Regions from separate parts of the Homo sapiens genome. Here region 1 is linked to region 2. Evidence: fine-mapped expression QTL. A gene starts in region 2. The other region holds a variant in brackets. All regions are shown on one strand. Distances are between the middles of the regions. Region 1 overlaps ASB11 (ankyrin repeat and SOCS box containing 11). Region 2 holds the start of ASB11 (ankyrin repeat and SOCS box containing 11).

What was found. PIP is the estimated chance that this variant, and not a neighbour inherited with it, causes the effect. A credible set is the group of variants that fine-mapping cannot tell apart.
Region 1: its variant is the best candidate, but not a certain one, in a credible set for the expression of ASB11 in left ventricle (GTEx, PIP 0.89).

The regions. Positions count from the first base shown.
Region 1 is chrX:15,280,737-15,286,043 of GRCh38, reverse strand. It overlaps ASB11 (ankyrin repeat and SOCS box containing 11), which reads left to right. Exons shown (of 7, transcript NM_080873.3): 7 at 2,415-4,347. The coding sequence ends at 2,539. Among named protein-coding and RNA genes, the nearest start is that of ASB9, 13 kb to the right of the region's middle. The variant C/T (reference allele first, on the strand shown) is at 2,633.
Region 2 is chrX:15,313,586-15,318,968 of GRCh38, reverse strand. It overlaps ASB11 (ankyrin repeat and SOCS box containing 11), which reads left to right and starts at 3,329. Exons shown (of 7, transcript NM_080873.3): 1 at 3,329-3,544. The coding sequence starts at 3,364.

The DNA.
Region 1 (5,307 bases), 33 kb after region 2:
CTAGATTATTATTATTGTTATTATTATTATTATTATTTTAGACGGAGTTTTGCTCTTGTTGCCCAGGCTGGAGTGCAGTGGCGTGATCTCGGCTCACTGCAACCTCCGCCTCCCGGGTTCAAGCAATTCTCCTGCTTCAGCCTCCTGAGTAGCTGCGATTACAGGCGCGTGCCACCACGCCCAGCTAATTTTTTGTATTTTTAGTAGAGATGGGGTTTCATCATGTTGGCTAGGCTGGTCTCGAACTCCTGACCTCAGGTGATCCACCCGCCTCAGCCTCCCAAAGTGCAGGGATTTCAGGCGTGAGCCACCGCGCCTGGCCAGGATTATTTTCAATAGTCTAGATCATTAATCATTGTTCTTTTATTTGAATCTTCACCAGAAGAATTATGATCTTCCTCAGCAGATCCGAGCTTGGAAATACCAGCTACTTTCCAACTGTTAGCAGAGACTATAGTTTATAGAAGTTTTCACATTTCCTATTTTCTTCCATCAAAAATGTTTCTAGGACTAGGATTTGTAGACCTGGATATCCTGGACAGGGCCTAGCTCCTCTGTCCTTTGTCTTCATAAATATAGCCACTTGCTCTAGAAAGATTAATACTGGCTGGGCGCGGTGGCTCACACCTGTAATCCCAGCACTTTGGGAGGCCCAGGCGGGTAGACCATGAGGTCAGGAGTTCAAGACCAGCCTGGCTAAGATGGTGAAACCCCGTCTCTACTAAAAATACAAAAATTAGCTGGGTTTGGTGGCACCCGCCTGTAATCCCACCTACCCGGGAGGCTGAGGCAGAGAACTGCCTAAACCCGGGAGGCAGAGGTTGGAGTGAGCTGAGATTGAACCACTGCATTTCAGCCTGGGCGACCGAGTGAGATTCTGTCAAAAAAAAAAAAAAAAAAAAAGAAAGATTAAATACCAACTACATCAGAGTTCACTCTCCTGTCAGTGTCTCTGGGCACTGGACAATTTGTCTACATTACCATTTTGCAGAGGAGGTTAAGTAGGACAACAGGTAAAGAAGTTTTCTATTCTTGCTTCCCAAGATTTTAACTAAGATCGATTGTTTGGTCCTCCAGGTAGCTTTCTATCTCATGGATGCTCCTTGGCAATGTGAAGCCAAATGTTAACCTGGCTATTCGCATATGCAGTCCATCATTTTTCATGGGGTGTGAGATGCTGTTACAGTGGATTTTTTTGAAAAGGAAAACTTTGTGTAGACCAGTAATTAGGTTTTCTTGAAGAGATCTTTACTGATAACAGTCAGGTTAGGAAATAATGACTGTGCAACTAGTATTGCAGCCAAAAGCTCATTCATCCTATTCAACCATATTCTGGACTCTCATCAGCTGATTTTCCTTAAGGATTCAGAGCCATTCAAAGCCATGGGCATGATGATTCTGTGAGACTCCTTGAGAGTCCATGAGACTCAGTTTCAGGGAACAATAGGGTCTGACTTGAGTCCTTCTTGCAGATCTCTATTGAGCTGGAATCCTTGCAAGAATAAAGGGCCTCTTCAGATTTAAGTTGAGACCCAGCCAGCACCACCTCATGGGCAGCTAGAGCCGGTAGGTCCAGGAGTACTTTGAGGGCTGAATATCTGGCCCCTGGCACATCTCCTAACACTGCCTCTGTCACCACGCAGGTGGAACTTCCCGCTGACACCCTTTCCGTATTGTCCCTCTGTTCTGTGGCTGTGTCTTGGAGTCCTGCGTGTTCAGTCCTTCCATTTGCATTTTCTCCTTGGCCAGTGTATTACTTTCTTTCTTTCTTTCTTTTTTTTTTTTTTTTTTTGAGGCGGAGTCTCGCTCTGTCGCCCAGGCTGGAGTGCAGTGGCCCGATCTCGGCTCACTGCAAGCTCCGCCTCCCGGGTTCACGCCATTCTCCTGCCTCAGCCTCCCGAGTAGCTGGGACTATAGGCACCCGCCACCACACCCGGCTAATTTTTTGTATTTTTAGTGGACACGGGGTTTCACCGTGTTAGCCAGGATGGTCTCCATCTCCTGACCTCGTGATCCGCCCACCTTGGCCTCCCAAAGTGCTGGGATTACAGGCGTGAGCCACCGTGCCTGGCCCCGTGTATCACTTTCATTGGCACATTCAATACATGAATGAGATGCATTCCCTTTAGACCCCACACCTCATTCCTAACTTGCCTCTGGTTAGCTTCATTCTTCAACATTGGTAATCCAAGTACCATTGGAAGATTAACTTAAAGAAATGCATCCCTTCCAGAGGGGCAAATCAGGATCTGCTGTCTGTATTTAGTGTCCGCTACCTCATTCTATAGTTCCTATACAGATCCAGCTTCTCTTCTGCTTTTAGAAAATTTCCGCCTCTTCCAGTTCTCTGATTTCCCCCTTCCACCCCACCTCCCACCACTATGAAGTTAACACCATTTTTATTTCTCTCTCAGGCCCACCTGCTCTTTCCCAGCTCTGCCGCCTGTGTGTCCGGAAGTGTCTCGGTCGAGCATGTCATCAAGCCATCCACAAGCTACATCTGCCAGAGCCACTCGAACGATTCCTCCTATACCAATAGTCCTAAGTGTTCCTGGGAAGATACTTGGAATGACACAGATTGTTGTCTGCTGTACCTAGAGTACCTAATGTAGAAGCTCAACAGCTTAGACTC[C/T]TAGTATCTTTAAATGAGCTCAGTCGAAGTAAATCCCCCATGAGCTAGAACACTTGAGGAGTGGAAACTCCTGGTTAGTTTAATGTTCTCATTAACCAAGGGGCAAGTAGAAACCATTTAGCTTTTAGCTCTTGTTGTTAAGAAACTTAAAAGAACTGTGAAGTAGAGTGAAAACAATAGGCTGTTTTTTGATGATTCGGGATCTTCTTGTACCTAAAAGTCAACATTCTGAATATTGTATAGACACATATAAATTCAGGTGGATAAGATTATAACAAATGTTAGGTATTCCAAGATATGTTCTTGATTTAGTTCCTTCCTTCAGCCCTTCCCCACTTTTTTTCTTTCTTTCCTTGAATAAATCTGGTATAATTTTGATTTTTTGTATATATATACGTATATATATATACATACATATACGTATATATATATACGTATATATATACACACACACACATGCACTCATATATTTAATGTTTTCAAAGTCCTTAATATATATAGTTCATATATGTTTTCAAAGTCCTTAATATATGTATAAAGCTTATATATATATGTTTTCAAAGTTCTTTATATATAAAGTTATATATATTTATATAGACTTTATATATATATACATATATAAAGTTAAGGACTTCAGAAACATTGTAGTTAACTGAGGCTTCCAGTTACTGCGGTCCTGGTTGATAAGAGAGACTTTGGAAGAGATCAGTGCACCCAGAGGTTGGCATCTATTGCTTATTGCTTCTGATATTAAATGCTGTTATTTGAAGTAAGCAGTTCTAGGATTGAGAACACTGGGTGTCCCCAACAACCTGAACCCACAGGCATTGTCTGAGGCATGTTGCAACCCAAGCACTGGCTTATTTTCAAAGTCAAGATGCTCAGGGTTTTTGAAATAATTACATACTGATGCCAGCCACCAAAGTGGGCTCAATGCTGGGTCAATATTTTTTTCTGTGGATAGGGGCCCAAAATAAGCACAAAGGTATATAAAAAGAGGCTTCTCCTTTTCTGTCTTCTCCTTCTTCTCATTTCTCTCTCCTTCTGTCACCCCTCCTCTTCCTCTATTCTTTCTCTTTTTTGTGAATTTAGAACATGGGAACTGGATAGACTTTTAATTATTGTAAGTATTACTGTCATGGTTCAGTATTCAGTTCTAAAATGAAAATTCCCTCTCAGATCATCCTAAGACTCATTTCACACATGTTTTTTTTTCCCCCAATTTTTCTAGACCTTTGGCTCTCAACTGGAGACAATTTTGCCCCACTCCCACTGAGACATTTGTCAATGTCTGCAGACATGTTTAGTTGCAACAACTGGGGGAGAATTGCTACTATCATCTAGACGGTGGAGATCAGGGATGCAGCTAATCACCCTACAGTGCACAGGAGCCAGCAACAAAGAATTATCAGATCTGGCCGGGCATGGTGGCTCACGCCTGTAATCCCAGCATTTTGGGAGGCCGAGGCAGGCAGATCGCACTGTCAGGAGTTCGAGAACCGCCTGGCCACTATGGTGAAACCCTGTCTCTACTAAAAATACAAAAGTTAGCCAGGCGTGGTGGCAGGTGCCTATAGTCCCAGCTACTTGGGAGGCTGAGGCAGGAGAATCACTTGAACCCGGGAGGCGGAGATTGCAGTAAGCCAAGATCACGCCACTGCACTCCAGCCTGGGTGACAGAGCGAGACTCCGTCTCAAAACAAAAAAAAAAAAAAGAAAGAAAGAAAGAAAGAAAAACAAACAAAAAAAAGAATTATCAGGTACAAAATGTCAATAGTGCCAAGAGTGAGAAACCCTTCTCTAAGCCTGTGCTATTCAATACAGTAGCTGCTAGCTACATATGGCTAATGAGCACAGGAATTGTGGATAGGCTGAATTAAGATGTGTTGTAAGTGTAAAATACATATTACATTTTAGTGATTGAGTAAAAAAAGAATATGAAACATTATGAACTTTGTTTTGTTTTCTTTTTTAGACGGAGTTTCACTTTTGTCATCCAGGCTCGAGTGCAATGGTATGACCTTGGCTCATTGCAACCTCTAAGCCTGTGCTATTCAATACGGTAGCTACTAGCCACATATGGCTAATGAGCACAGGAATTGTGGCTAGGCTGAATTAAGATGTGTTGCACGTGTAAAATACATATTACATTTTAATGACTGAGTAAAAAAAAGAATATGAAATACATGAACTTTTTTCTTTTCTTTTCTTTTTTGAGACGAAGTTTTGCTTTTGTCACCCAGGCTTGAGTGCAATGGCACGATCTCGGCTCACTGCAACCTCTGCCTCCCAGGTTCAAGCGATTCTCCTGCCTCAGCCTCTGGAGTAGCTGGGATTGCAGGCATCTGCCACTATGCCCGGCTAATTTTCGGTATTTTTAGTAGAGATGGGGTTTTACCATGTTGGCCAGGCTGGTCTCAAACTCCTGACCTCAACTGGTCCACCTGCCTCTTCTTTTTTTGTTTTATTTTTTATTTTTTTGTTTTGAAATATTAATAGCTTTTGATGTTGTATTTTTAATTTTTTGAAAACTTCCATACTGTTTTCCATAGTGGTTGTGGTAATTTACATTCCCACCAATAGTGTATAAGAATTCCCTTTTCTCCACATCTGCACCAGCATTTGTTATTTTCTATTTTTTGGATAGCCATTCTAACTGGGGTAAGATGATACCT
Region 2 (5,383 bases):
CCCAGGCTGGAGTGCAGTGGCACGATCTTGGCTCACTGCAACCTCCGCCTCCCGGGTTCAAATGATTCTCCCGCCTCAACCTCCTGAGTAGCTGGGATTACGGGCGCCCACCACCACACTGGCTAACTTTAGTATTTTTTAGTAGAGATGGGGTTTCACCATTTTGGCCGGGCTGATCTCGAACTCCTGATCTCATGATCTGCTGTTAGTGTATTTTATGTGTGGCCCAAGACAAATCTTCCAGCGTGGCCCAGGGAAGCCAAAAGATTGGACATCCCTGATTTAGTTTCTCCCACTCCTTTTGTGGGAAGCAGTGGAAAGCAGTCACCTATGTTTATGTTTTGATTTATCTTATGCCAAAACTTATTTTTGGCAAAGTCAGGGTAGTATAGGTCTGTGTTTACTTTTGTGAAGTAATTTTAAAGCCTCTTTATCCATCTCTGCATTCCCAAATGGATGTGGCTAGATGTTGAATTGTATCATCCTGTGGCTGGATTTTTTAATATAAAATTATGAAAAAGTTCTATGTAGAATTTGATTTGTAGCCTTTAGTACTTGGGGGAACTGATTTTTATCCTTTATCATTTCTATTTGGGTATGGCTCAGTGGTTCTCAACTAGGGCTTGGGGGGACAGTTTTGTTTCCCAGGGGACATCTGGCAATGTCTGGTTGTTACTACTAGGTGGGGTGGGGCATTGGCATCAAGTGAGTAGAGGTCAGGGTTGCTGCTAAGCATTCCGCGATGCTCTGGGCCATCCCCCACAACACATGTATCTGTCCCAAAATGTCAATAGTGCTGAGGCTGAGAAACCTTGGTGCTGTTGATGATTTCATCTGTGAAAGATAGCATGAATCAACTGTCCTTATGTATCAGTAGCCTTTTATGCCCATCACAAATGTAATGTTCAAATATAGTAAAGATGGTCTTGCCGGGCATGGTGGCTCACGCCTGTAATCCCAGCACTTTGGGAGGCCGAGGTGGGCGGATCACGAGGTCAGGATATCGAGACCATCCCGGCTAACACGGTGAAACCCCGTGTCTACTAAAAATACAAAAAATTAGCTGGGCGTGGTGGCGAGCACCTGTAGTCCCAGCTACTTGGGAGGCTGAGGCAGGAGAATGGCGTGAACCCGGGAGGCGGAGCTTGCAGTGAGCCGAGATTGCGCCACTGCACTCCAGCCTAGGAGTCAGAGTGAGACTCCGTCTCAAAAAAAAAAAAAAAAAAAAAAGATGGCCTCTCAGAAATAGTATAGACACCCATTTGAACCTTAATAAAGTTGAGCTTTTCATGGCCAACTTTTTTGGCGTGTAAAACATAGGACAGCCATGTTTTAAATGAAAAGACCAAAACAAGATTGAATAATGTTATAGAACAATGTACATCACTGGTCTGACATGACTAAATGATTGCCTACTTAGAGTATAATTGAAGAAAGATAAATGAAAAGGACTAAAAGAGTTGTATTCATGTATTTTCATACACTGGCATTCTACCAGGTAATATAAGCTCAGTAAAGTAAATCTTATGTTAATGTCTGTTCCTTGAGAGTTAAGACGACTCAAGGTCTTTATAGTGCTCTGATACACTGAAATCGATGAGCTGTATGTTGTGACTCAAGATTGTATTCTTACATGTCAGCTTTTTAATGTAGTGAAACAGTTCTTAACCAGGCAGTCATTCTAATTTGCCTGCATGCTAGGAGAAATTCCCATATTTTTGCATAAATCATTTGTTAAGATTTATTAGGCCACTTGTATAACTATATTTTGGCTTGTCTTTTCAATTGATTTTTAAAATTTACAAAATCGAACATAGCCAAGAATGAAGGCAGAGACCTAGAGTGATGAGGAAAACTAAAAATAAACCCATTTCACTTGTGTTGGCCAGCTGATAAGAGAAAATTGCCCAACTAGAGAAGGTTGATTCATGAAATATTTGGGTACTTCATCCAGAACCTAGGGCATCTCTTTTGTCCATTTCACTATGACTCTTCCATGATCAAGGATAGCCCACATTTTTCAGAAATGGGCACCACCTTTACCAATGCTTGAAATGCAAGTGAATGATCAGGAGGGAACCTTGCCATGGGACCTTGTCCCAGATGGAACTACCATGGCGAGTAGTCTGATGCTTCTAGTGTGACACTTACTTGGAGAGGCATCCAAGATAGGCCTTTTATTAAATACAGGCTTGGCCGGGTGCAGTGGCTCACACCTGTAATCCTAGCACTTTGGGAGGCCAAAGTGGGTGGATCACCTGAGGTCAGGGGTTCGAGACCAGCCTGGCCAACATGGCGAAACCTCGTCTCTACTAAAAATACGAAAATTATCCAGGCGTGGTGACGCATGCCTGTAATCCCAGCTTCTTGGGAGGCTGAGGCAGGAGAATCGCTTGAACCCAGGAGGCAGAGGTTGCAGTGAGCCGCGATCGCACCATTGCACTCCAGCCTGGGCAACAGAGTAAGACTCCATCTTAAAACTAAATACATACATACGTGCATACATGCATACATACATACATACAGCTTTAGGGTAAATTGTCTTTTTTTTTTTTTTTTTTGAGACAGAATCTTGCTCTTGTCACCCAGGCTGGAGTGCAGTGGCGCGATCTCGGCTCACTGCAACCTCCGCCTCCCAGGTTCAAGCAATTCTCCTGCCTCAGCCTCCTGAGTAGCTGGGATTACAGGCACCTGCCACCACGCCCAGCTAATTTTTGTACTTTTAGTAGAGACGGGGGTTTCGCCATGTTGGCCAGGCTGGTCGCAAACTCCTGACCTCAGGTGATCCGCCTGCTTCAGCCTCCCAAAGTGCTGGGATTACAGGAGTCAACCACCGCGCCCGGCCAGGTAAATGGTCTTTTTTAACTGGTCATATTTTAGATTTGGATTTAATCCTCTATAAACTTCAGAATTAAGAGAAAATGAAATGCTCCAGGGAGTAGTATTTCCCACTTAGAACATACAGCATATTTGCACTTCTTTTGTATGTCAAATAACTTGCTTTGTTTCTGTGGAAGCCAAGAAGTTTCTATCTTTCCAACCCTGCTTTCTAACATAAAATAGGAAAAATAGGGGTTTAGGAATATAAAATGTTTGGATATGAATCTTATCTGTTAGATAGTACTGAGTTATGTAGTTCTAGAACTATTGGATGTTTCTGGTTAGAAGGAAGTTTCTTTAGTTTATTTAACACTGCTGTGGAGTCAGCACATGCAGTCGCCAAATCAGTTAGATTAGAACCTACAGAGATCTCGGTAACAGGAGCACTGAGTGCTAGAAGGTTTAAAATAGATGTCATATGATACCAATTATAACTCAGTGAAATTTTACAGTCCTAGGACCCTATACAGAGCATAAGCCAAAATGGAAGATGGTCCTGTTTTCTATGGCTTTAAAAACATTTTTATTACAATGTTTGCTACGTTTTTTTTCTTTAAGCTTTTAATTAAAGTTTTTTTGGCTCTCCTAACCCATTTCTATATCGTCAAAGGAAATAGAAAAGAAGCGGCTAGGATAGCAGAAGAGATCTATGGTGGAATTTCAGGTAAAAGTACATGAATTTGTTCCTAATATTTAAAGAAAATCCCTCCTAGATAATTCATATGACTAGTATTTCTGGAAGGCAGATTATATTTATACTTTGATTTTAAGTGGGTAGTTTGAAAAATTGTCACTTAAAGTAGCAAATGCTGTTGGCTGCATCAATTTGTGGAGGATTTTCAGCTTTATTTTTTGCAAGTTCGTAGATCTTGTAGCAGTTGTTATTTAAGAAGTAAATAGGTAGTGGCTTACTAAGAGTATTTTGAGAAACTTCATTTCTACTAGCCAAAGTAATTACTTGTATATAATTATTTTCTTTAATATTTTAAAGCAAACTTTAACAATGAAGGGCATTCTAACCAGACTAAATTCTCTCAGGAAATAGAATGACTAATAAATTATAATTAAAGCAGCAAACGTGGCAAGCTATGTGTATTTTTTTTGCTGTCATTTGCAACTGGAATTGATTAACCACTTGTCACTGTCAGGAAAAGCTCTTCACTAAACCCATTTTATATGGTAGCATGCAAAGCACTCCAAACAAAGTTTATTCTAACATGAAATGCCAAGATTTGGGCAAAACATTTTAAATTCTCATGCTTTGTAGAGAATAGTGTCCATTTCTTTCAAGAAATGATTTACTTTAATTGTGGTGAGATGCTACAAAAGTAAATGAGTCAGATATCCCTGTCACTCCTGGGATTGTCACTTAATAGAGGAGTATTTATTCATAAACAGAGTTCAGAATTTCCCCGTGTATTTTTAGTGTTTGCAGGGGTTCCAGGATTACATCATTCTTTATCTAGTATCCATTTCAATTTGCATCCAGGATTCTCTTTCAAAATAGTCTTATGTGATTCCAATACACTAGACAACTCAGAAGACACTAGACAACAGCAGTCTTATCTAAAGAAATAAGACCTCCAAGGACGAAGCATCAGAATGCTTCAATTAACTGGGGAAAATGAGAAGAATTGTGAAGTTTCAGAACGTATCAGAAGGTCCGGACCATGGAAAGAGATTTCTTTTGGGGATTATATTTGTCACACATTTCAGGGAGGTATGTTACTTTGACTAGTTACAAAAAAAAAAAAAAAAAGTAATGCTTCTGATAAGTTTCAAGTTAAGCATGATCTGAAAAGTTATCTTCTAATTTAATTTGTCAATTTGGGCAAGGGCTTTCTAAAATTTTCAATAATAGTTTTGGTGTTCTCATAGATAAATCATTCTTCTGGTCTAAATTAGATGAAGTCCAACAAAGTCAATATTGGCAAGAACATGTTACAAATGTTTTCTCCTGTTGCACCTGCGCATTATTTCTGTCTTTGTGGTCTTTAATTAAGTGCACTCTTTTTTTTTTTTTTTTTTTTTGAGATGGAGTCTCGCTCTGTAGCCTAGGCTGGAGTGCAGTGGCACCATCTCGGCTCACTGCAACCTCCGCCTCCCAGGTCCCGGTTGAAGCAATTCTCCTGTCTTAGCCTCCTGAGTAGCTGGGATTACAGGCACACGCCACCATGCCCAGCTAATTTTTTTGTATTTTTAGTAGAGACAGGGTTTCACCATGTTGGCCAGGCTGGTCTTGAACTCCTGACCTCATGATCCGCCCGCCTCGGCCTCGCAAAGTGCTGGGATTACAGGCGTGAGCCACCGCGCCCGGCCTCAAGTGCACTCTTAAAAAAGGTATAAAACCTCCTTATAGTCAAAACCCATGTAAGCATGGTTTGAATTTAATCTGGAGCTGGAATACAAATCTCTTAAATACAGTTCGTTCATTCTGTAGTGCAAATATCTTTACTTGTTCAATCTCTTAAAATAGGTTAATTTGCAAGTAGCATAGTATTCT